Homo sapiens: one gene and its partners. The protein of the gene in region 1 interacts with the protein of each later gene in a pairwise test. Each region holds a gene or a part of one and is shown on either strand. Other genes may lie near its edges.

What was found.
Region 2: the proteins of MRNIP (region 1) and NUTF2 interact in binary tests that used the Homo sapiens proteins (3 or more experiments, as listed by UniProt).
Region 3: the proteins of MRNIP (region 1) and EFHC1 interact in binary tests that used the Homo sapiens proteins (3 or more experiments, as listed by UniProt).
Region 4: the proteins of MRNIP (region 1) and EIF3E interact in binary tests that used the Homo sapiens proteins (3 or more experiments, as listed by UniProt).

Annotation. Positions count from the first base shown.
Region 1 is NC_000005.10:179,849,848-179,857,317, reverse strand, and holds part of MRNIP (MRN complex-interacting protein), read left to right. Parts: intron 1-3,880; coding exon 3,881-3,940; intron 3,941-7,470. UniProt on the Homo sapiens protein: Plays a role in the cellular response to DNA damage and the maintenance of genome stability through its association with the MRN damage-sensing complex.
Region 2 is NC_000016.10:67,862,688-67,870,157, forward strand, and holds part of NUTF2 (nuclear transport factor 2), read left to right. Parts: intron 1-2,414; 5' UTR 2,415-2,443; coding exon 2,444-2,542; intron 2,543-5,652; coding exon 5,653-5,724; intron 5,725-5,813; coding exon 5,814-5,912; intron 5,913-7,470. UniProt on the Homo sapiens protein: Mediates the import of GDP-bound RAN from the cytoplasm into the nucleus which is essential for the function of RAN in cargo receptor-mediated nucleocytoplasmic transport.
Region 3 is NC_000006.12:52,425,172-52,432,641, reverse strand, and holds part of EFHC1 (EF-hand domain-containing protein 1), read right to left. Parts: intron 1-7,470. UniProt on the Homo sapiens protein: Microtubule inner protein (MIP) part of the dynein-decorated doublet microtubules (DMTs) in cilia axoneme, which is required for motile cilia beating.
Region 4 is NC_000008.11:108,236,130-108,243,599, reverse strand, and holds part of EIF3E (eukaryotic translation initiation factor 3 subunit E), read left to right. Parts: intron 1-1,686; coding exon 1,687-1,801; intron 1,802-3,524; coding exon 3,525-3,642; intron 3,643-7,396; coding exon 7,397-7,439; intron 7,440-7,470. UniProt on the Homo sapiens protein: Component of the eukaryotic translation initiation factor 3 (eIF-3) complex, which is required for several steps in the initiation of protein synthesis.

The DNA of each region.
Region 1 (7,470 bases):
AGTTAATTTTTGTATTTTTAGTAGAGACGGGGTTTCACCATGTTGACCAGGAAGGTCTCCATCTCTTGACCTCGTGATCTGCCCGCCTCGGCCTCCGAAAGTGCTGGGATTACAGTGCTGGTGTTACGGGTGTGAGCCACTGCGCCCGGCCTCTATTTCCTTGTTTGTTTTCCTGTTTCACTCTTCCATGTTCACCAGTGTTATTTATTTATTTATTTACTTATTTATTTTGAGACAAGGTCTCGCTTTGTCGCCCAGATTGGAGTGCAGTGGTAACAATCACAGCTCGCTGCAACCTGCATCTCCCGGGCTCAGCTGATCCACCTCAGCCTCCCACGTAGCTGGTACTACAGGTGTGGGCCACCATCCCCAGCTAATTTTTATATTTTTTGTAGGAATGAGGTTTCGGCCGTGTTGCCCAGGCTGGTCTGGAACTCCTGGGCTCAAGTGTTCTTCCCGCCTTAGCTCCCAAAGTGCCGGGACTACGGGTGTGAGCCAGCGCCCCTGACCCTCGTGGTCATTTTCAACCTTATGAAATGTGAGTTGCTTGGCCCCGGTGGCTCACGCCCATAATCTCAGCACTTTGGGAAGCCCACTAGGGCAGATCACTTGAGCTCAGAAGTTCCAGAGCAGCCTGGGCAACGTAGCGAGACCTTGTCTCTACTAAAATTCAAAATAAAATAGCTAGATGTAGTGGCGCGCATCTGTAGTCCTAGCTACTCAGGGTCGCTGAGGCAGGAGAATCGCTTCAGTCCAGGAGGTAGAGGTTGCAGTGAGCCGTGTTCACACCACTGCACTCCAGCCTGGGCGACAGCCAGACCCTGTCTCAAAAACAAAGAAAAATTACTTGAAACCAAAGAGGACGGCAAGTCGGCTATGTACTACTTTAATTTTAATTGCAAGTCGGCTGTGTACTACTTTAACACGTTTAACTTCAACAACCTTTGACTTAGGCATCATTCCCATCTTAGAGACATGAGAATTCCGAAATACACGGGAATCAAGTGGTTTCTCCATCTAGGGAGTGGCAGAACCATACTATCTCAGCAGTTCCCACAATTAATTCCTTTACCAGGTTCTGTGAGTCCTAAACTTTTAAAAAGGCTTTTCTTGGCCGGGTGCGGTGGCTCACACCTGTAATCCCAGCACTTTGGGAGGCCGAGGGGGGCAGATCATGAGGTCAGGAGTTCGAGACCAGCCTGGGCAATGTTGTGAAACCCCGTCTCTACTAAAAATACAAAAAATACAGGTCGTGGTGGCGGGCACCTGTAATCGCAGCTACTTGGGAGGCTGAGGCAGGAGAATCACTTGAATCCAGGAGGCAGAGGTTGCAGTGAGCCGAGATCACGCCACAGTGCTCCAGCCTGGGCAACAGAGCCAGACTCTGTCTCAAAAAAAAAAAAAAAAAAACAACTTTTCTTACTTGTTTATATACTCATAGAAAATCCACAGTTTTATTGGTGTTTTAAGGTAGAAGCTGAGAAGTAAAATTGCTAAGTCATTACCCAGTTCAATTTTTGGTAGGTGCTCATTGTCCTCCTTAGAATCCTTTTGGATACTTCCCCCGAAAACCTCATGATTTTGTATTAGGATCATATTAATCGTATTAATGTTAATGGATCAACCTAGACATCTTTGTGGTGTTAAACATGATCCATTACGTTTCTTCAAGTAACCTTGGTATCCCTTGGTAACATTTTATTTGTTGCTGTTATAAATGGACTCTTTATCAATTATGTGTTCTAATTAGATGTCTGCTCATATAAAAGCTATATTAATTTTTGAAGGTATCTTAATTTTGTACCTAACCACTGTATTAGACTATCTGGTTTTAGTGGCTTCTCATTTCATTATGTTGGTTTTCGGATAAAAAATTATGTCAGGTAGCAGCCGGGCTGGTGGTTCATGCCTTTAATCCCAGCACTTTGGGTGGGTCACTTGAGGTCAGGAGTTCGAGACCAGCCTGACCAACATGATGAAACCCTGTCTCTGCTAAAACCACAAAGTTAGCCGGGCGTGGTGGCACGTGCCTGTAATCCCAGCTACTTGGGAGACTGAGGCAGGAGAATCTCTTGAACCTGGGAGGTGGAGGTTGCACTAAGCCGAGATCTCACCATTGCACTCCAGCCTGGGCAATAAGAGCGAAACTCCGTCTCAAAAAAATTAAAATTAAAATTAAAATTAAAAAATTGGCTTTTCTTTGGGAGGCCGAGGTCTGCAGATCATTTGAGGTCAGGAGTTATTTCAGGTATTATAATTATGTCTATAAATAATGATAGGGTTTTCCGCTCCTTTATAATTTTTATACATCTTACAACTTTCTTCTAATTCCATTGGCTAGTACATCCAGAAAAAAATGGTAAATAATAGCGGGCAACCCTGGCTTGTTCTTGACTTCCATGTGGAATGCTGGTAAAGATTCTCCAGCATTAGAGTGGGTTTTAGGCATTTTATATGTTAAGAGAGAACACATCTAGTCAGGTTTAACAAGAATTGAAAATAAATGTTACGGAATTTTTTTTAGACCCAAGTTTAACAAGAATTTAAATATTATGGAATTTTTTTTACAGCTTCAATTTGAGTCTTACGGAGTGTTTTTGTTTTGTTTGGATTTGGTTTTGCGAGACAGGAATATTATGGAATTTTTTTTTACAGCTTCAATTTGGGTCTTTCAGAGTGGTTTTGTTTTGTTTGGATTTGGTTTTGTGAGACAGCCTCTTGCCATGCTACCCGGGCTGGCCTCAAACTCCTGGGCTCGAGTAGTCTTGGCCTCCCTCGTCGCTGAGACTACAGGCTCAAGCCACTGTGCCCAGCCCAATTTGATTGTGTTTCATACAGATAGCCAGTTTTCCCAGCACCAACCCGGACTTGTTAAATAGTCTGTTCTTTTCTCACTTTTAAAGTACCACCTTTATGATTATGATACGCTAAATGTTTACACATGCTTTGGTTTGTTTCTGGACTCCTTCCATCAGTTTTTAAAATTATTTCAGGCCAGATCCAGCCCTGGTGGCTCACGCCTGTAATCCCAGCACTTTGGGAGGCCGAGGCGGGTGGATCACCAGGTCAGGAGATCGAGACCATCCTGGCCAACACGGTGAAACCCCGTCTCTACTAAAAATACAAAAAATTAGCCAGGCGTGGTGGCGGGCACCTGTAGTCCCAGCTACTCGGGAGGCTGACACAGGAGAATGGCGTGAACCCGGGAGGGGGAGCTTGCAGTGAGCCGAGATTGCGCCGCTGCACTCCAGCCTGGGCAGCAGAGCCAGACTCTGTCTCAAAAAAAAAAAAAAAAAAATTATTTCAGGCCAGGCATGGTGGCTCACACCTGTAATCCCAGCACTGTGGGAGGCCAAGGCAGGTGGATCACTTGAGGTCAGGAGTTTGAGAACAGCCTGGTCAACATGGTGAAACCCCATCTCTACTAAAATACAAAAATTAGCTGGGCGTGGTGGTACACACCTGTAATCCCAGCTACTTGGGATTTAAAAAAAAAAAATTTCAGATCCAATTCCATTTGTTTTTTGTTTGTTTGTTTGTTTTTTTGAGATGGAGTCTCACCCTGTCGTGTAGGCTGGAGTGCAGTGGTGCAATCTTGGCTCACTGCAACCTCCACCTCCCAGGTTTAAGCGATTCTCCTGTCTCAGCCTCCTGAGTAGCTGGGATTACAGGTGCCCGCCACCATGCCTGGCTAATTTTTGTATTTTTAGTAGAGACTGGGTTTCACCATATTGGTCAGGCTGGTCTCGAACTCCTGACCTTGTGATCTGCCCGCCTCGGCCTCCCAAAGGGGGATTACAGGCATGAGCCACCGAGTCCAGCCCAATTCCATTTTGTTTTAAATAATTATCTGAGTTGTATTTCTGAAATTTCATTGCAGGTAAAAAAGAGTGTCAAGTGGACATGCAAAGCTTGTGGAGAGAAGCAGTCCTTTTTGCAGGTGAGTCCTACAAAACAGAAAGCAAGTGGGGCGCAGGCCTGCAGCGAGCCCTTCCAGGGAGTCCCAGCATGCCACAGCTGGGATCATCCTCTCTCAAACAGAGTTCCCCAGACACGGAGCTCCTGCTTCCGAGCTTCCTGTTCCTTCAGGAAGTGAAATGGATGGAGCAGAATCTGGAAAGGTACTGCCATTTGATTCTTCATTCAGCAAGTATTTCTTGAGTACTTTCTGTGTGCCAAGCACAAGGGGAACAGTGGAAAGTAAGCCCATTGTCATTCTTGCCCTCACAGATGCACTTGTGTGGAAGGGGAAGAGAAACTAATGCACACATGCATCTGCATAATTTAAAACTCGGCTGAGCACAAGGAAAGGAAAGCACTGGGGACTGTGAGAAGATGACAGAGGAATCAGGGCAGCCGGGGAAGGGCAGAGGCCGTTGGTGGAGGTGGAGGTGTGGGATAGTGGGCTCAGGAAGTGGAGGCAGGCAGGGGCAGGCTGTAAATGCTCTCATCCAGCTGTTTGCAGCTGGCATTCAGTACGTCTTTTCAGTCCATCCGTATTGCCCCTCCTGAACTCTAGGACCCCAAACTGTCCTGCATCCTTTGCCTTACTGAACTTGCTCTTTTCCTGCTCCAGCCCCAGTGCCACCTCTCCCTTCACCTCTCATCTTTCCTCTCCTTCTACAGCCATGTGCTTTCTTTCTGACCTTAAACCCAAATTTGCTCCCTCTTCAGGCCTTTGTGCTCACTGTGGAGTTCCCCTCCCTCTTCTCAGTATCCTATGGAAGTTACATAGTCATGTGTTTATGCACGGATTGTCCATCTAAGGCTGTAAGTTCCGTGAGAACAGAGGCTTTTTATTTGCTGGTGTATCCGCAGCACCTAGCACAGTGCTCGGTGTTTGTGGAGTGAGTAAGGAACTGGCCCAACCTTGTTGGGCATTTAGGTTGATTTCCCTTTTGACTGTTATGCACAACTCTACCGTGAAGCTTTTCACAAAAACCTCTTTATCCACGTGACCAGCTGTTTACTGTTTACTTAGGACAAAGTCCTAAAAGTTAAATTGCTGTTTTTTGGGGTTTTTTTTTTTTTTGACATGGAGTCTCTCTCTGTCATGCAGGCTGGAGTGCAGTGGCGCAATCTCGGCTCACTGCAACCTTCGCCTCCCGGGTTTAAGCAGTTTTCCTGCCTCAGCCTCCTGAGTATCTGGGACTACAGATGCATGCCACCACACCCAGCTAATTTGTTTTTTGTATGTTTAATAGAGACGGGGTTTCACCATGTTGGCCAGGCTGGTCTTGAACTCCTGACCTCAAATGATCCACCTGCCTCCGTAGACAAAAACATTTCATAATGTTGGTGAGTGCCTTCACCTGATATTTTTTATTTTTTTATTTTTTTTTAGACGGAGTCTCGCTCTGTCACTCAGGCTGGAGTGCAGTGGTGCGATCTCGCTCACTGCAAGCTCCGCCCCCTGGGTTTACGCCATTCTCCTGCCTCAGCCTCCTGAGTAGCTGGGACCACAGGCTCCCACCACCACGCCCGGCTAATATTTTGTATTTTTAGTAGAGATGGGGTTTCACCATGTTAGCCAGGATGGTGTCAATCTCCTGACCTCGTGATCTGCCCACCTTGGCCTCCCAAAGTGCTGGGGTTACAGGCGTGAGCCACCGTGCCTGGCTGATATTTTTTTTAAAAAAGGGAAAAAAAACACTTCAGAATGGGTTCAGCAAAGTTAAAAAATAAATAAATAAATAAATAAAGTGCTGGCAAGGTAATGAGATCTCTTAGGGAATCCAAGGGCAGAACTTCATCCCCGGTCCCTTGAAAAACTAGCCCCAAGAACTGAAAAGCTGCCAACAAGCCAGACATCAGCTTTTCCTGCCCATCACCCAGCTTCTCCCTATATCTTTACTCTATTTTCTCCTCTCCTTCCCTTTCTGTTTCTCCCCAGACTGTTCAGTCAGATTCTCTGCTCCAAGTCCATAGAATCTCATTCCAAGCCAACTGGAAGAGCTGAGTCTCAATTATAAATTCCTAGGAGAAGCAACCTGGTTGGCCCAGGCTGACTCGGATGCCCACCTCTGGTCCAGTCAACTGGGATTGGGTCTCAGAAGAGAGGGGCTGGCTTACCAGGTAGGCAGACACCCCACATGGTGAGCATGGCTTGTTTGAGATGTATATATTTCTACATTCTCCTTGAGGAAGCCTTCTTACTCCCCTCAATGCCTCTGTGCTGTGTGTGGTATGTGGTGTATGGCTGACTAGGCCACAGTAACAAACACACCAAAATTGTGGTGGCTTAATACAATAGACGTTTCTCTTGCTCTCATAACAGTCCTGGGAAGATGATAAGGTCAGCAGGGCGCTGCCCTTGATGTGGTTGCTCAGGGATCCAAGCTCCTGCCATCTTGAGCTGCTTCTATTCCCTGAGGCTCATCTGTAGCTGCTTCTAGCCACTGTGCTTCTAGCCACTGAGAAGGGCAGGTGCTTGGAGGAGCTACCGAGAGGCTTTGAGGGCCAGGCTGGGAAGCAAGTGACAGTGCCATGGAAAGAGGCTGGTTTCGTGGCCACCCCTGACCACACGCACACTGGAAAATGACATCTAGTTTTCGGGAAGAATGCGCTTCAGTATCCATCCAGCAGTCCCTGCCCTATGGAAGAGCACACCGCTACTGGTTATGCCAGCCTGGTCTTTGCCATTTCCCCCTCCAGCTACTCTTCTCCGTTCTCAGGCGAATGTGCTCCAAACAGGACTGCACTCCCTACGTGTCCATTACAATTGCTTCTGTCAGCGTCAGCAGTGGTCTCTGTGTTGCTAAAAACAACGGTTGGTTCTCAGTTCTCACTTGACTTACTAGCTGCCAGGCACTGGGAGTCCACCAGAATTCTGTGCTCACGGGACATCAAGAATGCTCCTGCCAGTGGGGTGTTGAGGAACACTGGACACGTATAGTGTGTGTGTCTGATCACAGATGTGCTCCATTGTCCCAGCACACTTCACTTAAAAAACACAGGTTCAAAGGCCAGACTGTTAAGAATTTCAAGATGGCGACAGCAGAGCGGCTGTCACACCCTGAAGCTGATTCTGCCTGTGCCATAGCAGGACGCATGCTCTCAAATTCCATCTCGTACCATCTGCCTGTGCCATAGCAGGACGCATCCTCTCAAATTCCGTCTTGTACCATCTGCCTGTGCCATAGCAGGACCCAGGATCTCAAATTCAGGCTCTTAACATCTGCCTGTGCCATAGCAGGACTCATGCTCTCAAATTCCATCTCGTACCATCTGCCTGTGCCATAGCAGGACCCGTGGTCTCAAATCCCGTCTCGTACCATCTGCCTGTGCGATAGCGGGACCTGAGCCCTCAAATTCCGTCTCGTACCATCTACCTGTGCCATAGCGGGACCCGTACTCTCAAATTCCATCCCGTACCATCTGCCTGTGCGATAGCGGGACCCGAGCCCTCAAATTCCGTCTCGTACCATCTGCCTGTGCCATAGCGGGACCCGTACTCTCAAATTCCGTCTC
Region 2 (7,470 bases), on another chromosome or scaffold:
AGCCAGACGTGGTGGTGCTTGCCTGGAGTCTCAGCTCCTTGGGAGGTTGAAGTGGGAGGATTGCTTGAGTCCTGGAGGTCAAGGCTACAGGGAGATGAGATGGCATCACTGTACCCTGACCTGGGGGACAGAGCGAGACCCTTTTCATGCCCCGGGACATTTGCTGGTGCTGTTTCTTCTGGTTGGCATACCCTTTCTGAGGACTGCCCAACTTTGCTCTGAGCCAAGGGTAGAAGGAGATGTGGCCCTTATCCATTCCTCCAGCTTTTCCCCTACCCTCAGAGCTCTTAGGCAGTGGGTATGGCACCTTGGAAGCTGCAGCAGGGTCAGGGCACATTGAGTGACTAAGCATAGCAAGTACCAGGTGGACGGGGCAGAAATGCCAGAGGTGGGAGCTGTGCTCTGCCTTAGGTCCTCTAAGTTTGTGTGTGAGTACAGCCAGTGTCTGACCTCTTGGAAATGTGACCAAGACCACAGTGAAGACTAGATGATGGTCCTGTGCTTTCCCCACTTGTTGATTTCTTTCTTGGCAGAGTATGAACTAGGACACACCTTGTGTTCCTGTGTGGCAGGCGTGACTGGATCCAAGCTTTCTCCCCTGCTTGCTTTAGATTTTCCTGGACATTTCTTAGTCATCCCAGCACTGAGCTTCTATTTTTAGTGCCACTACCTCCTAGGGGACCTAAAATAAAGCTGGCTTAGCTTCCTGCTCCCTCATTGGCTTGAGTGTTGGTCACAGAGCGGAGGATTGGCTGCGTTCTCACTCTTTCCCTACACGATTCCTCCCCGCTGGCTCCTCTGGCTTTGGGCGAGGTCACACGGACTGGAGTGAGCTAGCACTTACCATGTTGAGCTGAGGGCTTTATCATGTTCCTTTAGAGAAGCTTCACAACCACCGGCACTGTCAGGTTGCCATCCCCATCTTATAGTGGAGGAGGCTGAGGCCCTAAGAAGGGCAGTGACTTGCATCAGATCCCACCACTGCGAATGCTTGTCTGCTGGGGTGGAACCCACCTCCTCACTGCTTTGGTTCAGAGTCCTATTATCAGGACAGAGGGAGTGGGCTCCTCTACAGTTGGGGCCATCCACAGAAAAACATGTGGGTCTGCAGTCAGGGGATCTGCAGCAAGATGTGGGCTTCCCTACTTGGAAGCAGCCTAGCAAAGCCCAAGCGGCTCTCCCATCTGGGGCTTGGGTTTTCCATCCAGTATCCTTACAGCCATGGTCTCTAGTTGGGAGGGGGCCTCCTCTCAGAGACCCGAGAGAGACAGCTCCTTAGGGTAAAAGCAATGCTGGGATGAGGGGATATGAAGGGATGACACGTTTCCCTTCACAGCCTCCATCCCCTCTTCCCACAACCCTCAGCTTTCCCTCTGATCCTTGAACTCATGTCCCCAGCTCTGAAGTGGGTAGGAGTCACTCCCATCAATGAAGAAATATCCTAGAAAGGGCCAGGTCAGGTAATCACCTGGCCTCGGGGAAGTAAACTGCCCCCATGAGACTAAGGGATCACTTGCTGTTTTTGGCAGAGGAGGGCCCTTGGCTGGGTACAGTGGCTCACGCCTGTAACCCCAGAACTTTGGGAGGCCAAGGCGGGTGGATCACTTGCAGTCTGGAGTTCGAGACCAGCCTGGCCAACATGGTGAAATCCCATTTCTACTAAAAATACAAATTAGCTGGGTGTGTTGGCAGGCGCCTGTAATCCCAGCTACTCTGGAGGCTGAGGCAAGAGAATCACTTGAGCCCAGGGAGCGGAGGTTGCAGTGAGCCAAGATCACGCCATTGCACTCCAGCCTGGGCAACAAGAGTGAAACTCTGTCTCAAAAAAAAAAAAAAAAAAAAAAAAGAAGAGGGGCCTTGAGAATCTCCCCACATCCTCACTGGGTCTTCCATCTGTCAGCGTAGCCCTGGGACAGTGTTGGGGGCCTGAGGGCTGTAGTACAAAATAGTACACACACACAGGTATCAGTTGTTCTTGGCTGTAAAGTGGGAAGAATAGCAATAACTCTGTCCTTGCAGGTTGTTGAGAGGATTACATGGAAAGATACTGGAGGAGTGCTTAACTCCTCCCATAAGGCCCCTCCCCTTACTGGGCTTTCAAGGGCCTGCTCTGACCTTTCTTTGTTGTAGATCTACCCTTAGCACCCCTCCTGTGTGCTCCACGACCCTATCATCTATGTGTCTCATCAACCAAGAACTCAAAGGAGAGGCTGGGTCTGATCTACCTCTGGGCTCCTAGCACTGGTCTGGCTTGGGAGGGGTCTCCTGCCAGTTCCCCAGGGCCTGTCCGTGTTCTCTGAGAGAACAGATCTCAGCAAAGGACTCCAGGAAGGCCAGTGAGGGGTGGGGGTCAGTGGCTGGTCACCTACTCTCATGGTACCAATGCTTCCCTCCTGGTCTCATTGGTCTTGCAGGTCTCCGTGAGGCCGGGTGACGCTCCAGAATGGGAGACAAGCCAATTTGGGAGCAGATTGGATCCAGCTTCATTCAACATTACTACCAGTTATTTGATAATGATAGAACCCAACTAGGCGCAATTTACGTAAGTTTCCAGCTCTAGGGCCAGAATGGACCCTAGGGGATCAATTTGGATGTTGGGCCAGTGTGTCCAGTTCACAAGTTCTGGCAGCCCTATCTGGACTGGCTACACCTCTGTATCTGAACTTTTGTCCACGGGACAGGGGTCTGACGCTTGGCCCAAGTAATTACCTGGTCTATACTTTTCCTTTTGTCAACTTCCACAAGAGTGAGAATCCTGCTGTTCTGGGCTTGCCATTCCATGTGGCCAGCATTTGTCATGGCACATGGTTTTGGATTGGGCAGCAACAGGCAGAGGTTAGGGCTCATGGTGCCCTCTGGAGGCAGCAGCCATGAGCATCCTCAGTGCAAAGCTGAGCTCTCTTGGAGGCCTGGGGTCCAGCTTCCTTTTGGATCCAAGGCTCCTGAATGCTCATGGAAAACAAATGAGGTTAGCCCAGGGAGGCTGATAGGTCATTTCACAAACCCTTCTATGCAGGCATTGCTGGCTGCTCTTTTTTTTTTTTTTTTTTGAGATGGAGTCTTGCTCTTTCGCCAGGCTGGAGTGCAATGGCTCGATCTCAGCTCACTGCAAGCTCCGCCTCCTGGGTTCAAGTGATTCTCCTGCCTCAGCCTCCCGAGTAGCTGGGATTACAGGCGCCTGCCCCCATGGCCAGTTAATTTTTTGTATTTTTAGTAGAGATGGGGTTTCACCATGTTGGCCAGGCTGGTCTCGAACTCCTGACCTCGTGATCCTCCCACCTTGGCCTTCCAACGTGCTGGGATTACAGGCGTGAGCCACTGCGCCCGGCATTTGCTGCTCTTTTAACGATGTTCATATACACCAAGAACTAATTGTACTTGACTCTGCCTGAGAGTCAGTCACAAAAATGTGATTGATCAGGCAGGTGAGCCCAGGATGGGGGTGTTAGGAGTAATCCAGGCACAGTCTCAGAGCCTGATTGGGCTGACTCTCCACAGTCTTCTGTGTCTGTCTCCAGAAAGTCAGTGTCCATTCAGAAATTTTGGAAAAAATAATGAAATTTTATTAGTGGAAGACCAATTCCAGCACAGATATTTGATTGTCATTATCATAGTAGAGTTTTTTTTTTTTTTTTTTGAGACAGAGTCTCACTCTGTCAACAAAGCTGGTGTGCAGTGGGGTGATCTCAGCTCACTGCAACTTCTGCCTCCTGGGTTCAAGCGATTCTTGTGCCTAGCCTCAGGAGTAGCTGAGGCTACAGGCATGCACCACCAAGCCTAATTTTTTTTTTTTCTTGAGATGCAGTCTCACTCTGTCGCCCAGGCTGGAGTGCAGTGGTGCAATCTTGGCTCACTGCAATGTCCATCTCCTGGGTTCAAGCTATTCTCCCATCTCAGCCTCCCAAGTATCTGGGACTACAGGCACGTGTTGCCATGCCCGGCTAATTTTTGTATTTTTTAGTAGAGATGGGATTTCACCATGTTGGCCAGGCTGTTCTTGAACTCCTGACCTCAGGTGATTTGCCTGCCTCAGCTTCCCAAAGTGCTGGGATTACAGGCATAAGCCACCGCGCCCGGCTACACCTAATTTTTGTATTTTTAGTGGAGGTGACATTTCACCATGTTGGCTAGGCTAGTCTCCAACTCCTGACCTCAGGTGATCTGCCTGCCTTGGCTTCCCAAAGTGCTGGGATTACAGGTGTGAGTTACCATGCCCAGCATAGAGTTTTTGAAACCTTGAAGTGATCTGACCTGAGATCCTGGCACTTGTGCCTCATTATCACTCTCCCTTTTTTTTTTTTTGAGATGGAGTCTCACTCTGTCACCTAGACTGGAGTGCATTCATGCGATTTTGGCTCACTGCATCCTCTGCCTCCCAGGTTCAAGCAATTCTCATGCCTCAGCCTCCCAAGTAGCTGGGGTTACAGGCACGCACCACCATGCCCAGCTAATTTTTGTATTTTTAGGAGAGACGGGGTTTCACCATGTTGGCCAGGCTGGTCTGGAACACCTGACTTCAAGTGATCTACCCACCTTGGCCTCCCAAAGTGCTGGGATTACAGGTGTGAGCCACTGCACCTGGCCTCATTATCTCTTAAAGCAGGCCTGAGCCAGAGAAGAGAGTTAGCAAGGTCCTAAAAGAACAATTTATATTTATTATTTCATAATACTCAGCACATTACCCCTTTGAAGGTTAGGAAACTAAGACTCAGAGAAATAACTTACTTAATGTCACAGCTAGTAAGCAGCAGAAGCCCTTTTGAGTTCTGCCCTTGAAGGCTGTGGAAGGGAAGATTTGAGGTGGAACTAAGCTAAGTGGGTTACATTTGAGATTTTGCTTCTTGGTGGTAGGGAGGGTCCCAGACTAGGCCTTGGAAGGCCCTGTCAGCCTCTATCTCTCCCTGACCCCATGGGTATCCAGAAGGCTAGCTAGAAAGTCCACAGTGGAACTTAGCCTCGGCCCTGGAGGGTGATGAATGTGGAATTTTTCCAAGTTATTTCTGATGACTTTTTTTTTGAGATGGAGTCTTGCTCTGTCACCCAGGCTGGAGTGCAGTGGTGCGATTTCGGCTCGCTACAAACCGCCGCCTCCTGGGTTCAAGCAATTCTCCTGCCTCAGCCTCCTAAGTAGCTGGGATTACAGGCGTGCGCCACCATGCCTGGATAATTTTTGCATTTTTAGTAGAGTTGGGGTTTCACCATGTTGGTCAGGCTGGTCTCGATGTCCTGACCTCGTGATCTTCCCGCCTTGGCTTCCCAAAGTTCTGGGATTACAGGCGTGAGCCACCGTGCCTGGCCACATTTCTGATGACCTTTTGGGACTGACACTGACTGACCACACAGCAGGATGGCTGAGCTCAGGCCAATATAGCCCTCCTGGGCCTATGCATATCAGAGACCATATGACTTCTTAAATACAAATGGGAAGTATATTTTATTAAATAGTCTTTCAAAGCCTGGGCCCAGGGTCAATGGGGTAGAAGATGTTGATAGTGTAATGTTTGGGGGCTATACTCAGTCTCCTTCTTTAGACAGGGAAACTGAAGTGTGGCCACACTTCTCCAAGCAAGGCCCTTTTCAGAGTCTTTCCAGGGCCTTAGAGATACTTGTACTCTGAGGCCCCAACCCTGGGGTTTCCTGTGCCTTTTTCAGATTGACGCGTCATGCCTTACGTGGGAAGGACAACAGTTCCAGGGGAAAGCTGCCATTGTGGAGAAGTTGTCTGTAAGTAGGGAAGAAAGCCAGGGTGCAGGTGGCTCCTTTCCCACCCCTTCTGGCCTTGGTTCTCCCACCTCCCACTCTCTCTCTTGTAGAGCCTTCCGTTCCAGAAAATTCAGCACAGCATCACCGCGCAGGACCATCAGCCCACTCCAGATAGCTGCATCATCAGCATGGTTGTGGGCCAGCTTAAGGTAATGGTACTGCCACAGTGGTAGGGAGGGGTGGGCAGGCAGAGGAGAGTCTTGTACCCCTGCTTTCCCTGTGGATGTGACCTGCTTATCTAGGGACACCCAGACAAAGTGACTGTCTAGAGCTGCGTAGTTCAGTATGCTAGCCATTAGCCACATGTAGGTGGCAATTTTTAAGTTATATTAATTAAGATTAAATAAAATGTACTTCTTCGGTTGTACTAGCCATATAGAACATTTTTGTGACTGTAGAAAGTCCTATTGGCAGACACTGGTCTAGAGCCTTTATCTGGAAAAGGGAGAAGTATAGGAGTAGGATGGGACTGGGGTGCCAAGCCACTAGGCTCCCACTCTGCCCTAAGGTCAAGGTGGACAGGCTAGCTGGGTGCGGAGAGGCAGTCCACTCCTGCAGCCCTTGCTACCACTCCTCAGGCTGGCTGCTGGCTCCTTGCCTGCTGAGCAAAGCAGATTCCTGGAACTCCTATTTCTTTTTTTTTTTTTTTTTGAGACGGAGTCTCACTCTTGTTGCTTAGGCTGGAATGCAGTGGCACAATCTCAGCTCACTACACTTCTGCCTTCCGAGTTCAAGCAATTCTCCAGCCTCAGCTTCCCAAGTAGCTGGGATTACAGCTGCCCGCCACCACACCCAGATAATTTTTTGTATTTTTAGTAGAGACAGGGTTTCACTATGTTGGCCAGGCTGGTCTTGAACTCCTGACCTCAGGTGATCCACCTGCCTCGGCCTCCCAAAGTGCTGGGATTATAGGCGTGAGCCACCTATTTCTCTTTGCATTTTCCTTCCTCCTTCTCAAGACCTATTATTCTCAGAGACTTCCTGTGGTCCCTCAGACCCCCCAAGAACTCTCCAAGGACCTGTTGTGCTTCAGCATATTAAAGTCAGATTCTGGGCTGGGCGCGGTGGCTCACGCCTGTAATCCCAGCACTTTGGGAGGCCGAGGCAGGCAGATTACCTGAGGTCAGGAGTTTGAGACCAGCCTGACCAACATGGAGAAACCCTGTCTCTACTAAAAATACAAAATTAGCCAGGCATGGTGGCACATGCCTGTAATCCCATCTACACGGGAGGCTGCGGCAGGAGAATCGCTTGAACCTGGGAGGCAGAGGTTGCGGTGAGCTGAGATTGCACCATTGCACTCTAGCCTGGGCAACAAGAGTGAAACTCTGTCTCTAAATAAATAAATAAAGCCAGATTCTGTTTACAAAAACACCCTTCTTCCCAAAAATAGCAGGACAAATTGGCTGCCCCTCGGCCTGGGCTTGTGTCTTACAATAACATGGTCACATGCTCTCTTTCTCTAGGCTAGCCGGGACAGGGCTTCCTGAGTCCAGAGTGGGTGTGTAGGTGGTCCTGTGGGCCTCTGCAGTGGACGCAGAGGCACCTGCTTTCTGGCCTGGACTTTCCTGTCAGTTTCTCCTGCCTGTTCAGGATGTCCTGCTCAGTGCCTGTGCCTGAAGAGGCACAGAATTCAGGAGGTCTCTGTAGGGAGCTCATTGTTCACTTTCTCAGGCAAAGGTAGTAAACACTGCTGCTTCCCACCGG
Region 3 (7,470 bases), on another chromosome or scaffold:
AAAGAATCTTAAGAGCTGTGAGGCAAATGCACCAGGTAACCTATAAAGGAAAACCTATCAGATTAATAGCAGTTTCTCAGCAGAAACCCTACAAGCTAGAAGGGATTGGGGCCCTATCTTCAGCCTCCTTAAACAAAAGAATTATCAGCCAAGAATTTTGTATTCAGTGAAACTAAGCTTCATAAATGAAGGAAAGATACAGTCTTTTTCAGAAAAACAAATTCTGAGAGAATTTGCCACTACCAAGCTAGCACTACAAGAACTGCTAAAAAGAGCTCTGAATCTTGAAACAAATCAAAACACATCAAAACAGAACCTCTTTAAAGCATAAATCTCACAGGACCTATAAAACAAAAATACAATTAAAAACAAAAAACAAAAAATCCAGGTATACAGACAACAAATACCACGATGAACAGAATGGTATCTCACATCTTAATACTAATGTTGAATGTAAATAGCCTAAATGCTCCAATTAAAAGATACAGAATCGCAGAATGGATAAGAATTCACCAACCATCTGCTGCCTTCAAGAGACTCACCTAATACATAAGGACTCATGTAAATTTAAGGTAAAGGGGTGGATAAAGAAACTCCATGCAAATGGACACCAAAAGTGAGCAGGAGTGGCTATTCTTGTATCAGACAAAACAAACTTTAAAGCAACAGCAATTAAAAAAGACAAAGAGGGACATTATATAATGATAAAAGACCTGTCCAACAGGAAAATGTCATAATCCTAAATATATATGCACCTAACACTGGAGCACCCAATTTATAAAACAATTACTAATAGACCTAAGAAATGAGATAGACAGCAACATAATAATAGGGGGGGACTTCAATACTCCACTGATAGCACTAGCCAGGCCAAGACAGAAAGTCAACAAAGAAACAATGGATTTAAACTATACCCTGGAACAAATGGACTTAATATATTTACAAAACATTCTACCCAACAACCGCAGAATATACATTCTATTCAACAGCGCATAGAACTTTCTCCAAGACAGACCATATGATAGGCCACAAAATTAGCCTCAATAAATTTAAGAAAATTGAAATTATATCAAGCACTCTCTCAGACCATAGTGGAATAAAATTGGACGTCAACTCCAAAAGGAACCTTCAAAACCATGCAAATACATGGAAATTAAATAACCTGCTCCTAAGTGAGCTTTGGGTCAAAAATAAAATCAAGATGGAAATTAAACAATCATTCGAACTGAATGACAATAATGACACAACCTATCAAAGCCTCTGGGATACAGCAAAGGCAGTGCTAAGAGAAAAGTTCAAACCCCAAAACGCCTACATCAAAAAGTCTGAAAGAGCACTAACAGACAATCTAAGGCCACACCTCAAGGAACTAGAAAAACAAGAACAAACCAAACCCAAACCCAGCAGAAGAAAGAAAATAACCAAGATCAAAGCAGAAACAAATGAAATTGAAATAAACAAACAAAAAAAACAAAAGATAAATGAAACAAAAAGCTGGTTCTTTGAAAAGCTACATAAAATTGATAGACCATTAGCAAGATTAACCAAGAAAAGAAGAGAGAAAATCCAATAAGCTCAATTAGAAACAAAATGGAAGATATTACAACTGACACCACAGAAATACAAAAGGTCATTCAAGGCTACTATGAACACCTTTACGCACATAAACTAGAAAACTAGAGTAGATAGATAAATTCCTGAAAGATAAAACCCTGCTAGCTTAATTCAGGTAGAATTAGATACCCTGAACAGACCAACAACAAGCAGCAAGACTGAAATAATTAAAAAACTACCAGCAGGAAAAAGTCCAGGACCAGACAGATTCACAGAAGAATTCTACCAGATATTCAAAGAAAAACTGGTACTATTGGCACTATTCTACAAGATAGAGAAAGAGGGAATCCTCCATAAATCATTCTATGAAGGCAGTATCACCCTAATACCAAAACCAGGAAAGGACATAACCAAAAAATAAAACTATAGACTGATATCCCTGATGAACATAGATGCTAAAATCCTTAACAAAATACTAGCTAACCGAATTCAACAACATATGAAAAAGATAATCCACCACGATTAAGTGGTTTTCATACCAGGGATGCAGGGATGATTTAACATACGCAAGTCAATAAATGTGATACACCACATAAACAGAATTAAAAACAAAAATCACACGATCATCTCAATAGATGCAGAAAAAGCAATCAACAAAATCTAGTACCCCTTTCTGATTAAAATTCTCAGCAAAATTGATACAAGGGACATACCTCAATGTAATAAAAGCCATCTATGACAGACCCACAGCCAACATAATGCTGAATGGGGAAAAGTTGAAAGCATTCCCTCTGAGAACTGGGACAACATAAGGATGCCCACTCTCTCCACTCCTCTTCAGCACAGTACTAGAAGAAGTCCTAGGCAGAGCAATCAGACAACAGAAAGAAATAAAGGTCATCCAAATAGGTAAAGAAGTCAAACTGTCACTGTTCACTGATGATATGATTGTTTACCTGGAAAATCCTAAAGACTCCTCCAGAAAGCTCCTAGAACTGATAAAAGAATTCAGCGAAGTTTCTGGATACAAAATTAATATACACATATCAGTAGCTCTTCTTTACACCAACAGCGACCAAGCTGAGAATCAAATCAAGAACTCAACCCCTTTTACAATAGCTGAAAAACAAACAAACAAACAAAAACTTAGAAATATACATAACCAAGGAGGTGAAAGACCTCTACAAGGAAAACTACAAAACACTGCTGAAAGAAATAACAGATGACACAAATAATGAAACAAATAATGGAAACACATTCCATGCTGATAGGGTGGGAATCAACATTGTGAAAATGACCATACTGCCAAAAGCAATCTAAAAATTCAATGCAATTCCCATCAAAATACCACTATCATTCTTCACAGAATTAGAAAAAACAATCCTAAACTTCATATAGAACCTAAAAAGAGCCCGCATAGCCAAAGCAAGAATAAGCAAAAAGAATAAACCTGGAGGCATCACACTACCTGATTTCAAACTATACTATAAGACCATAGTTACCAAAACAGCATGGTACTGGTATAAAAATAGGCACATAGACCAATGGAATAGAACAGAGAGCCCAGAAATAAAGCCAAATACTTACAGCCAACTGATCTTTGACAAAGCAAACAAAAACATAAAGTGAGGAAAGGACACCCTATTCAACAAATTGTGCTGGGATAATTGGCAAGCCACAAGTAGGAGAATAAAACTGGATCCTCATCTCTCACCTTATATAAAAATCAACTCAAGATGGATCAAGGACTTAAATCTAAGACCTGAAACTATAAAAATTCTAGAAAATAACATTGGAAAACCTCTTCTAGACATTGGCTTAGGCAAGGGTTTCATGACCAAGAACCCAAAAGCAAATGCAATAAAAACAAAGATATATAGCTGGGACTTAATTAACCTAAAGAGCTTTTTCACGGCAAAAGGAACAGTCAACAGAGTAAACAGACAACCCACAGAGTGGGAAAAAATCTTCATAATCTATACATCTGACAAAAGATTAATATCCAGAATTTACAATGAACTCAAACAAATTAGCAAGGAAAAACAAAGAAGCCCATCAAAAAGTGGGCTAAGGACATGAATAGACAATTCTCAAAAGAAGATATACAAATGGCCAACAAACATATGAAAAAATGTTCAACATCACTAATGATCAGGGAAATGTAAATCAAAACCACAATGTGATATCATCTTAGTCCTGCAAGAATGGCCATAATCAAAACATCATAAAATATTAGATGTTGGTGTGGATGCAATGAACTGGGAACTGCTGGTGGGAATGTAAACTAGTACAACCACTATGGAAGATTCCTTAAAGAACTAAAAGTGTGAAGATTCCTCAAAGAACTAAAAGTAGAACCACCATTTGATCCAGCAATCCCACTACTGGGTATCTACCCATTGGAAAAGAACTCATCATACAAAAAAGATACTTGTACATGCATGTTTATAGCAGCACAATTTGCAACTGCAAAAATATGGAACCAACCCAAATACCCATCAATCAATAAGTGGACAAAGAAAATGTGATATATATGATGGAATACTATTTAGCCATAAAAAGGAATGAATTAATAGCATTCACAGTGACTTGGATGAGACTGGAGACTATTATTCTAAGTGAAGTAACTCAGGAATAGAAAACCAAACATTGTATGTTCTCACTCATAAGTGGTAGCTAAGGTATGAGGATGCAAAGGCATAAGAATGACACAATGAACTTTGGGGACTCAGGGGGAAAGGGTGGGAAGGGGGTGAGGGATAAAAGACTACAAATTGGGGGCACTGTATACTGCCTGGGTGATGGGTGCACCAAAATCTCACAAATCACCACTATAGAACTTACTCATGTAACCAAACACGACCTGTTCCCCAGTAACCTATGGAAATAAAAAAAATTGTTTTTAAAGTAGTGGGATAACATCAGCTTTCCCAGGTAGAATAAGAACTTGATTGTTACGTAGAAAGAAAAGAAAAATTATATTTAAATACTGTGTTTAAAAATATACTTTTCATGGAATTTTATAGCAGGCTGGGCTCCTGATTATCATGTATTCTAACCTTCTGAGTTTATAGACGAGGAAATTAGAGATTGTGACTACAAGGTCACAATGTTAGCTGGTAGGAGACCCAGAATTAGAATCCAGGTCTTCTAACTCCCAGGAAGTGCTCAGAATGCCACAATAAACATAAAAATATTTGTATTTACTTCAAGATGAAGGGGGGAAATGCTGCATAAATATTTTCATATCACACACAATTATAAAAAGCCAAGTCACATTTTTAATTTTACATTATTATAAGCATATATGGTACGTGTTTGACTTGCCAATTTTCAGCAGTGACACAGACAAGAAATAAATTTTGTTAATTATTCATGTCATTTTAGAACTGATATTTATTGAGCACTAAATATATAATAAACTATATAAGTCCTTACCTTCATGAAGTATACACTCAGGTGGGACAGATAAACACTAAACAAATCAGCAACACAAATTATAATATAGTGCTGCAAAGGGGAAAAAAAAAAAAGAGAGGGAAGTGATATAGAAAAATGAGGAGGAACTGCCATAGCAGAGTGGCCAGGAAAAGCCTCACTGAAAGGAAAGATGGAGTCAGCCACTTAAGGATGGTGGGGAAGCTATTTCAGATAGGAGAAATGCCATGTACAAAAAGGCCCTGAATTGGAATTTTCAAATGCTGCCATTTCAAGGAAATCAGTAAAAATAAATCCAATGTATTGAAACATGATAGGTGAGAAAAAGGACCCAAGATGAGGCTGGGGAGAGAGCAGGGAGGGCCAGCTCCAGTAGGGCTGTGAGGAACCTGTAGAGTTGGATCTTTATAGATGATAGGGAAGCCATGGAAGTGTTTCAGTCAGTATGTGACATAATCTGATTTTCAAAAAATAAGCCTGGCTGCTCTGTGGAAAATAAATTTATGGTAATAGTGAGGATGAAAATAAGTAAATGAATTAGTTACATATTTTAGAAGCAGAAACAATAGAACTTGCTAATAGATTAGATGTGGATTGTGAGGGGAAAGAAGAATGAAAGATGACTTTCATGTCACAGTGAGGTGAATGGTGGTAATGTTTACTGTATTGGTTAAGAAAGCCTGATGGCATTTTCCCAGAAAAATGACATAATCAGAGCTGAACTCTAGAGAATAAACAAGGCAGCATACCTGTTATAAGCATAAGGACTAGGAATGAGACTAAAACAACAGTTAGGTAGTCATTTGGCTTGTCTGAACTATGATAGTGGCAGAGGAAATGAAAGTGAGAGATATTTGACTTGGCAACTCATTAAGTGTGGAGGATAAAGGAGAGAAAAAGCCAAAGATGGCTCAGGTTTCAAGCTTGGATTACCTAGTGGAACCACACAGGGAAAGCAGATCTATGGGAAAAGGTGAGGGATAGAGATAAGTTAGAGACATACAGAACTTGAGGTACCAACAGTTCATCCAGGTGAAGATATCCCATGGGCCAGGGGGATACAGATCTGGAGTCTCAATGATGTCAGAGTTGGAACTAAATAGTGACATTCTCTACGGTGAGGTGACGGTTGAAATCACGAAAGTGGGTGAGATCTCAAGAAAATTATATAAAGAATGAGATAGAGCCTTGAAAATACTTGTAAGTTAAGAATTGAAAAGAGGAAGGGAGGCTAAAGAATAAGCAACCACATAGAAAGAAGGAGGAAAATGAGAGTCATGGAGGCAAAAGAAGAGCACAGTTTCAAGAAGGGAGGAAGGGTCAACAGTGTCAGATGGCATAAACAAGCCAAAGACAATGCTGGCAAAGTAAACCTCTCTAGATCTGGTAAAAGGACAGCACTGGCTACCTAGGAGAAAGTATTCTGGGGCTGTGGGTAGGGAGAAGTCAGATTGTAAGTGATTTGACAGTCAAGTGAGAAACAAAGTTATCTTGCTTAAAGGCATCACAAGGTATTATAGAAAGAGGACAGGATGATATGACTCTAGCTAGAGAAGCAGTCACTAGAGTGTCTGAAATAGAAATAATATGAAACTTGAAGATGAAAAAGATGAAAGAAGAACATCAGAAATAAAGAGCTGGAAGTCAGTCTGGGAAACACAATATAGTAGGTGATGCTGGAATTATACAGGAGCAAGGGGAAAAGATGAGGGCACTTGGAATAGATGTCCTGGTCTTTATTACCTAAGTAAGAAATGAAGTTATATTCTGTCTATGAGGAACAGTCCTAAGAATTTCCAAAATATAGACAAATATGTTGGCTATTATGTGGACCTCTGGGTATTAGAGGTCCTTCATTTAAAATTAGAACCTTCATTTAATTCAGAGAAACCATAATTCCCTTATTATAAACAAACAAACTTAGTTTCAAAGTCATGCATTTAGCTTCTCTCTACCCCATTATCTATGCTAAGGCTCATTTATCTAGAAATTGTGATGATCCAAGTAAAATGAATTGGAAAATAAAAATAATATTTTTATGTGCACTATCCTTAAAGAAATGAATTATGAATATTAAATAAGTACAAATTAAGTAACAACAATTAGTGTAAAATAACATAGAAAACAAAAAATAGGAAGCCTATTTCCTACTCAAGCGCAATTTCTCCTCTGAATTTTACTAATACTTTCTTACGACATATATCACTTTATCACCTTCTACTTTATAACAGTTACTTACTATTCTTTTCAGTAAAAATTAAACATACCAGGATTCATATCTTGGTAATTATTTAGTGCCTATCCCACTTCTCTCTTGTATTTTCAGCCCTCTCCCTTCTCTGCTGATTTTGCAATGTCTGTCAAAGCCACAAATAAACAAAAGAAACAAGCAAAAGGAAAAGATACATCCAATTATATAAATCATACTGTTTAGTGGATGTTTAGGTTCGGCCTATGAATGCATATGTGAATGTGTCC
Region 4 (7,470 bases), on another chromosome or scaffold:
TGGAGTGCAGTGGCGCAATCTCGGCTCACTGCAAGTTCCACCTCCTGGGTTCACGTCATTCTCCTGCCTCAGCCTCCCGAGTAGCTGGGACTACAGGCGCCCACCACCACGCCCGGCTAATTTTTTGTATTTTTAGTAGAGACAGGGTTTCACCGTGTTAGCCAGGATGGTCTCGATCTCCTGACCTCGTGATCCGCCTGCCTCGGCCTCCCAAAGTGCTGGGATTACAGGCGTGAGCCACTGCGCCTGGCGACATCCTTAAACCTTCATCTTGACCCCTGTTAGTCACTACTCACACCCCCTAAAGGTAAGCTGTAGTCTGATGATTCATTTTGCCTGTTTTTGATTTTTATATAGGTGGAGTTAAGCATTTACCACCATGTACTGCTTTGTATGACATCTTTCACTCAGCATTGTTTGTGAGTCATCATGTTTTTAGGATAGCAGTAGTAGTTCATTGATTTTTCAGTGCCGAATGTTAATCTATTATGAGTATGCTGTGGTTTGTTTTCTCATTTTAACATTGATAGACTTGGCTATTACAAATAGTGCTCCTGTGTACATTTTTGGAAGTGCACTTTGACTATATGCACCCATTTGTTTTGGATGCCTCGAAACAATTGCTGGATCAAAAAGTATGTTTGGCTTTGGGAGATAAAAATCTTACAAAGTAGTTGTATTCCTGCCAGAAGAGAATAGGTTCCAGTTAGTCTACATCCACACCAACACTGGTATTGTCAGGATTTTTTAGGTTTTTATTGTAATTTTTAGTATGCATTTCCTTATGATTAATGACGTTGAGAACCTTTTCATGTGTCTGTTGGCCATTTGGTTGTCTTCTTTTGCGAAGTGCCTATCTTTTAGCCATTTCAATTGCAAGGTCTGTCTTGTCTTACTCATTTATAGGAGTTCTGCATGTAATTTGGAAGGTTCGATTTTGCTCTCATGGCTAAATACCCTTTGACCACCTTCATCTTTATTTTTTGTGGGCAGTGAAATATTGTGGCATTTTCTTGGATTTTTCTTTCCTTGCAAAATTAAGTTCAGTACAGAAATCTTTTCTTTTGCTGAAGCATTTCTGTCCGTGAATATTTTGTAGAATCTTTACATATTACTCAGTACACTTCATGTTGTTGTGAGTTTGTGTATATGTATCTATTTGCTCCCTGTACTATAGGTTAAATTATGCTTTTTTGGATCCTTTGCAAAGCAAAAGCCTGATCTGACATGGTTGACTTAAAAACTTGGTGCAGGTTGTTTCAGCAATGTGGATGGAGAAGCATATAGGAGTTTATTACTGATTACCTGGATGTGGAGAAGTGACAGCTATATGTGCTTTACAGGAAAGATGGCGTGGGTTTTATTTATACACAGCCTTGCCTAGAAAGGGTAAGAGATGGTTTGTAGGGACACATAAAAAATAAGGTCATGTAAATCAGAAGTAGGTGGGAATGTCTACAGTAATTCTCTTCATTTTAAAATTTTTAGGTAAGTAAAATACTTTTACGTCTATAGGTTGGTTGCTTGCCATATTGCTTGCCATTATTACAAGAGGGGAATGTTAATGGTTTATCGTATTTTATAAAGTATTTCTTGAAATATATTTCCAGGTAAATTAGTTTTAGTATTAATCAGTTTATTTGGGGAACTTAAATATATTCATTAGAAAGTTATCTTCTTTTGCAGATATATAATGAAAAGGAATTATTACAAGGTAAATTGGACCTTCTTAGTGATACCAACATGGTAGACTTTGCTATGGATGTATACAAAAACCTTTATTCTGATGATATTCCTCATGGTAAGTTTTGTCATTAGAACTGAAACTTGTCTTGTGACTTGAGGATGTGTGTATTAAAGTTTTATGATTTATAAGACAGCTTTAGCCAAAAGGCTTAAATATGATTTGAATGTTAATGTTCTTTGGGTGAGAGGTTATATAAAGGTTTCATATCTTCCGAAATATATTGTTTTCTCCCTGTGAAAGATGTGGAACTACTTTAAAATATGGTCATCAGATGCCTTCATTTCATAGTATGTATCATCAAAGTTGTGCTTATGATTCACATTCCTTAGAATTATCTGAGAATGTTGCAGTTCTTGGGTTGCTAACTTTTTCAGTTAGTGCATTGTGTGCCTTAGAGTTTTGTGTTTTTTTTTTTAATTTTGAGGCATCTAGTGTAGACATTGTTCTCCAAATATGGTCCCCAGGACCAGCATCATCAGTTCACCTGGGAGAGCTTGTTAGAAATGCAGGTTTTTGGCCACACACCAGACCTACTTAATCAAAACTGTTAAGTGGTCCTCTTAAGTTTGGGAAATAATTCTGTGTCATTTCTTCAATGCACATTACATTTTTAAAGGTTCCAAGAATTTTGGCAGTAGAGAAATACAGTATACTGTGATTAAATTGGCATTTCTCAAAATTTGATCATAGATCTTCTGTGTTTCAGAAAGACTGCTCTAGAATATACTTTCTAATATATAATACAGACATTATTACATTAAACATAATCCACATGTTTGACTTGTAGTTCCCTGCAATAACAGTATCTCTTTTTTAGTTTGTCATGGATAAACAAAAAGGAAACTATTTCTTAGTTTCTTTCTTTTTTTTTTTGAGATGGAGTCTCGCTGTGTTGCCCGGGCTGGAGTGCAGTGGTGCGATCTCGGCTCACTGTAAGCTCCGCCTCCCGGGTTCACGCCATTCTCCTGCCTCAGCCTCCCGAGTAGCTGGGACTACAGGTGCCCACCACCATGCCCAGCTAATTTTTGTATTTTTAGTAGAGACGGGGTTTCACCATATTGGCCAGGCTGGTCTTGAACTCCTGACCTCGTGATCAGCCCGCCTTGGCCTCCCAAGTTGCTGGGGTTACAGGCGTGCGCCCTTGCCCCTGGCCTATTTCTTAGTTTCTTAATGAAACATTAAGGTGTTACCAGAGTTGGTTATGTGCAAGTTTTCTCCACCTTTTCATAGTATAGTAAAAGGAACGATAGAATTTGGTTTGAGAGATTATAGAGCTGGATTTGTGGTTAAAAGAGATTATTTAATGGATTTAAATTCCATTCAACCTAGTTGATAACCTGTAATAGTAATATGTAAATCCCTCTGAGTTTTTCTTCAAAAACTCTGGGATAATATTCACCTAAGAAAATTAAATGAGAACAAATATAAAAACACTTGGAAAGAAGTTTCTGCAATGGAGAATTAAATGATAGATAATTGGGTCCTACCCTTTTTTTCTTTCACATCCCTCTGTCACCCCAAGGCTGTATATTCTCTAGTTTCCCTCAAGAGTAGGAAGAGGATTCCCTTTTCCTTTTTGTGCCTTTGTATTAGTAGAAAAAAGAAATTAGGGATCGGGGACATTTCTGACTGAGTAGCCCATGGCATATGAATATATTGGGGGTAAATAAATATATGTATAGTTTAAATACACTGAAAAATTTCCAGACATTCTCATGATGAGTAGCACAATTTAACATTCCTTAACATTGTAGTGCTCTTCTGCATTTTTAATTAGCTTTGAGAGAGAAAAGAACCACAGTGGTTGCACAACTGAAACAGCTTCAGGCAGAAACAGAACCAATTGTGAAGATGTTTGAAGATCCAGAAACTACAAGGCAAATGCAGTCAACCAGGTAAACTCGTCTTAATTTTGAATTCTAAAAATTCTCCTTTCTGGATTAATACAAATGTTAATTCAAACTTTATCCAGTATCCCATAGTAAAAGTTCATGGTTTAAATGAGTGCTTTATTCATTTTTAATTTTTGTTTATCCTTATTTTGTAGGGGCCAGTATAATTAATAAATGTTAATATTAACACTAAGTTTTTTTCCTAAAAAAAACTTCTTTAGTACTTATCTATACTGATTATACTACAGAAATTCCATCTCCTGTTTCCCCCTTCCTGGGGACATTTGGCAATGTCTGGAAATACTTTTTGGTTGTCATAACTGGAGGGGTGCTATAGGGACCTAGTGAGTAGAGGCCAGTTATGCTGTTAAACATCCTACAGTGCATAGGACAAGCACTGCTGCCGCTACTCCCCAACAAAGAATTATCCGACTGAAAATGTCCATTAAGAAACCCTGTTCCACTGTGTGGTGGCTCACACCTGTAATCTCAGCACTTGGGGAGGTGGAGGCAAGTGAATCCGTTGAGCCTAGGAGTTTGAGACCAGCCTGGGCAACATGGCGAAACCCTCTATCTTACCAAAAAATTAAAACCAATAAAAAGTTAGCCAGGTGTGGTGGTGTGCGCTTGTAGTCTCAGCTTACTTGCTACTTGGGAGGCTGAGGTCAGAGGATGGCTTGAGCCCGGGAGGCGGAGGTTGCAATGAGTCAGTGTCATAATACCACTGCATTCCAAAGTAGGTGACATAATGAGACACCATCTCAGGAAAAAATAAAAAAGAAACCCTGTGCTTGGGCAATACCTAGAACCTTAGAACACATGGGTATCTCGTTATAAGAGAAACCTGAGCTCACTTTATCCCTGGCTACATTCTTTCATACCCTTCCAAGCTCCATGCCCAAGGAGGGTAGTTTTGAGCTGATAAGATTATTTTATTCCTAACTTCCCTTTACCTACAAATAGACGTTACTGTTTCGTTTCCAAAGAAAACATATTGCCTTAGTCTGACGTAGTACATGTCACGGGTGGAAGTCTTTTGGGTTACTAGAAACATTTAAAAATAAAATCTCTTACTAAAATTGAATATTGTCATTTGAGATAAATCCTAGCTACCAGTAAATTCACTTGAGGAATTGCTGGATATTTTGCCGTGCTATACCTTTGATTTCTATGTATTTAAACCAAATTTTTAGAGATTGGCTCTTAAGTTTTCCTTTGTGATTTGTGAAGGTGTTACCAGATATTTTTAGAAAAGCAACAAATATACAATTACTGTGCCATACTATAGCGTACTATACTATACTATACCATACCATACTGTGACATATACTACATACAAATGCAGTTAGCTCTCTGTTCTGCATCTGTGGATTCAGCCAACTGCAGATTGAAAATATTCAGGGAAAGAAACTAAAAAATAACAATACTACAATAAAAAATACAAATAAAACTACAGTGTAACAACTAACAACTATATGATATTTACATTGCATTAAGTGTAAGTAATCTAGAGATGATTTAAAGTGGATGGGAGGATGTGTATAATTTACATGCAAATACTGTGCTATTTTACATAAGGGACTTTAGCACCTGCAGATTTTGGTATTTGAGGGGGCTCGTGAGTAGGGGGTAGGCAAGGTCTTGGAACTAATGCTCTGGGGATACCAAGGGATGACTATATGCGGGAAAACACACAGAGATATATACACACATCATGCGCATAGACAGAGCTATATATTATACTAAACTACTTTTATGCTTTTAGAAGAAGTAATTTTAGATCTTCAGGTCACATGTAGGTGATTACAAAGGGACAGCGGAAATAATCCAGATGTTAGACTACAACAGAAAATTTAGGATGCTGTAGTTTAGTCACTCAAAGACTGGGAAGTAATGGGATCAGAGCATGAATAAGATGAATGTACATGTGTTCACCAGTTAGAAAAAGAGGATCCTTGTAGCTTAATAGGTACTGAGTTTGAGATAAATGAAAGGATCATGTGTTAAAAACTTGTAATCTTATACTTACAGACTACCTATTTTCAATGTAAAAACCTTTTTCTGACAATTCACCCTTTTTAAATTTCATTGAATATATAGTATCGTACTTACACTTTCCCGGAAATAATCAGCCAGAGGACAGTGATTATATACGTGAGTGGTATGAGTAGTGCAATACAAAGTTATTCAGTGTGATCCACTGCAAATGTTCAGTTTTTGTTGAAGTTCTTCTATGTTGGAATTTCATGTACATTTCATAATCAGTATTGTAATACACCTATATTAATTTTTATGGGGACATATCTCTGCTCCATTAAATCTTCAAGCAAAATTGTGTTCCCAAAGACACATTATAGCATATTTCTTCTCATGAGAAGGATAAGAAAATGTTTTTGTTTTGGAAAATGCAGTCAGGTGCAGTAGCTCATGCCTGTAATCCCAGCACTTTGGGAGGCCAAGGTGGGTGGATCACTTGAGGTCAGGAGTATGAGACCAGCCCGGCCAGCGTGGTGAAACCTCATCTCTACTAAAAATACAAAAATTAGCTGGGCATGGTGGTGCACGCTTGTAATCCCAGCTACTTGGGAGGCTGAGGCAGGAGGATTGCATGAACCCGGGAGGCGGAGGTGGCAGTGAGCCGAGATTACACCAGTGAACTCCATCCGGAGTGACAGAGTGAGACTCCGTCTCAAAAAACAGTAACAACAAAAATGCTCATAAGGTGGGCAACTATACACATATATCCCCTGTCCCTTGATGTCTTTCTTTATTATTAGTTTGTCTTTTACTAGTCTGTCAACATCTCAAGATAATGCAAAGCTAATTTAAGAAAAATTAAATATGGCACTTGGTTATACCTAAGGATTGTGTAGGGTATGTAGCATAGCTGTCATGTATATCGGACATGATTTTTAAATTTTTATTTATTATTTTTTTTTGAGACAGAGTCTCACTCTGTCGCCCAGGCTGGAGTGCAGTGGTGCCATCTCTGTTCACTGCAACCTCCACCTCCCAGGTTCAAGCGATTCTCCTGCCTCAGCCTCCCAAGTAGCTGGGATTACAGGCACCCGCCACCATGCCTGGCTAATTTTTGTATTTTTAGTAGAGACTGGGTCTCACCATGTTTGCCAGGCTGGTCTTGAACTCCTGACCTCAGGAGATCCACCTGCCTCGGCCTCCCAAAGTGCTGGGATTACAGGTATCAGTCACTGCGGCCGGCCAGGCATGATTTATTAATCTTGTAAATTTGTCAAATCGTCCTTTTGAAAAATATTAACAGATTGGAGGAGGGGACATTTATATATAGGATTAGTTTCTTCTAGTTTGTACATGGTACATTTATTTCAGTCTCTATAATTAGACTATATTATCTATTAGAAATTTGACCACATAGAGCAAAAACCATTCTCAGTAGATTACCACTAAGTAGACTACTGACCTTACTAGAAATAGTCAGAATCTTCTGGTTTTATTGTCTGACAAACTGTTAAAGGCCTTACCTTAGTTGTGGTGAAACACACTAATTTTCAGTTAGGGCTAAAGAAATCTGAAAGTCAATTTTAAAGTTTGTAGCTCTCCTTGTATACTTCTTATATTCAAAACATGTAATGTCCTGCTTATTTTATTCTGGAAGTCTTTTAACATTTAAGTATTTATTTAAGGTGACTTTGCGTAGGTAATAACTTAGAAGTTGGATATGCTTATTTTGTTTTCTGTGGCCTTTAAAATAATGTAATTTTTGTTTTTTATTATTTAGGGATGGTAGGATGCTCTTTGACTACCTGGCGGACAAGCATGGTGTAAGTGTTTTAAAAATATTTTAAAGTTGTC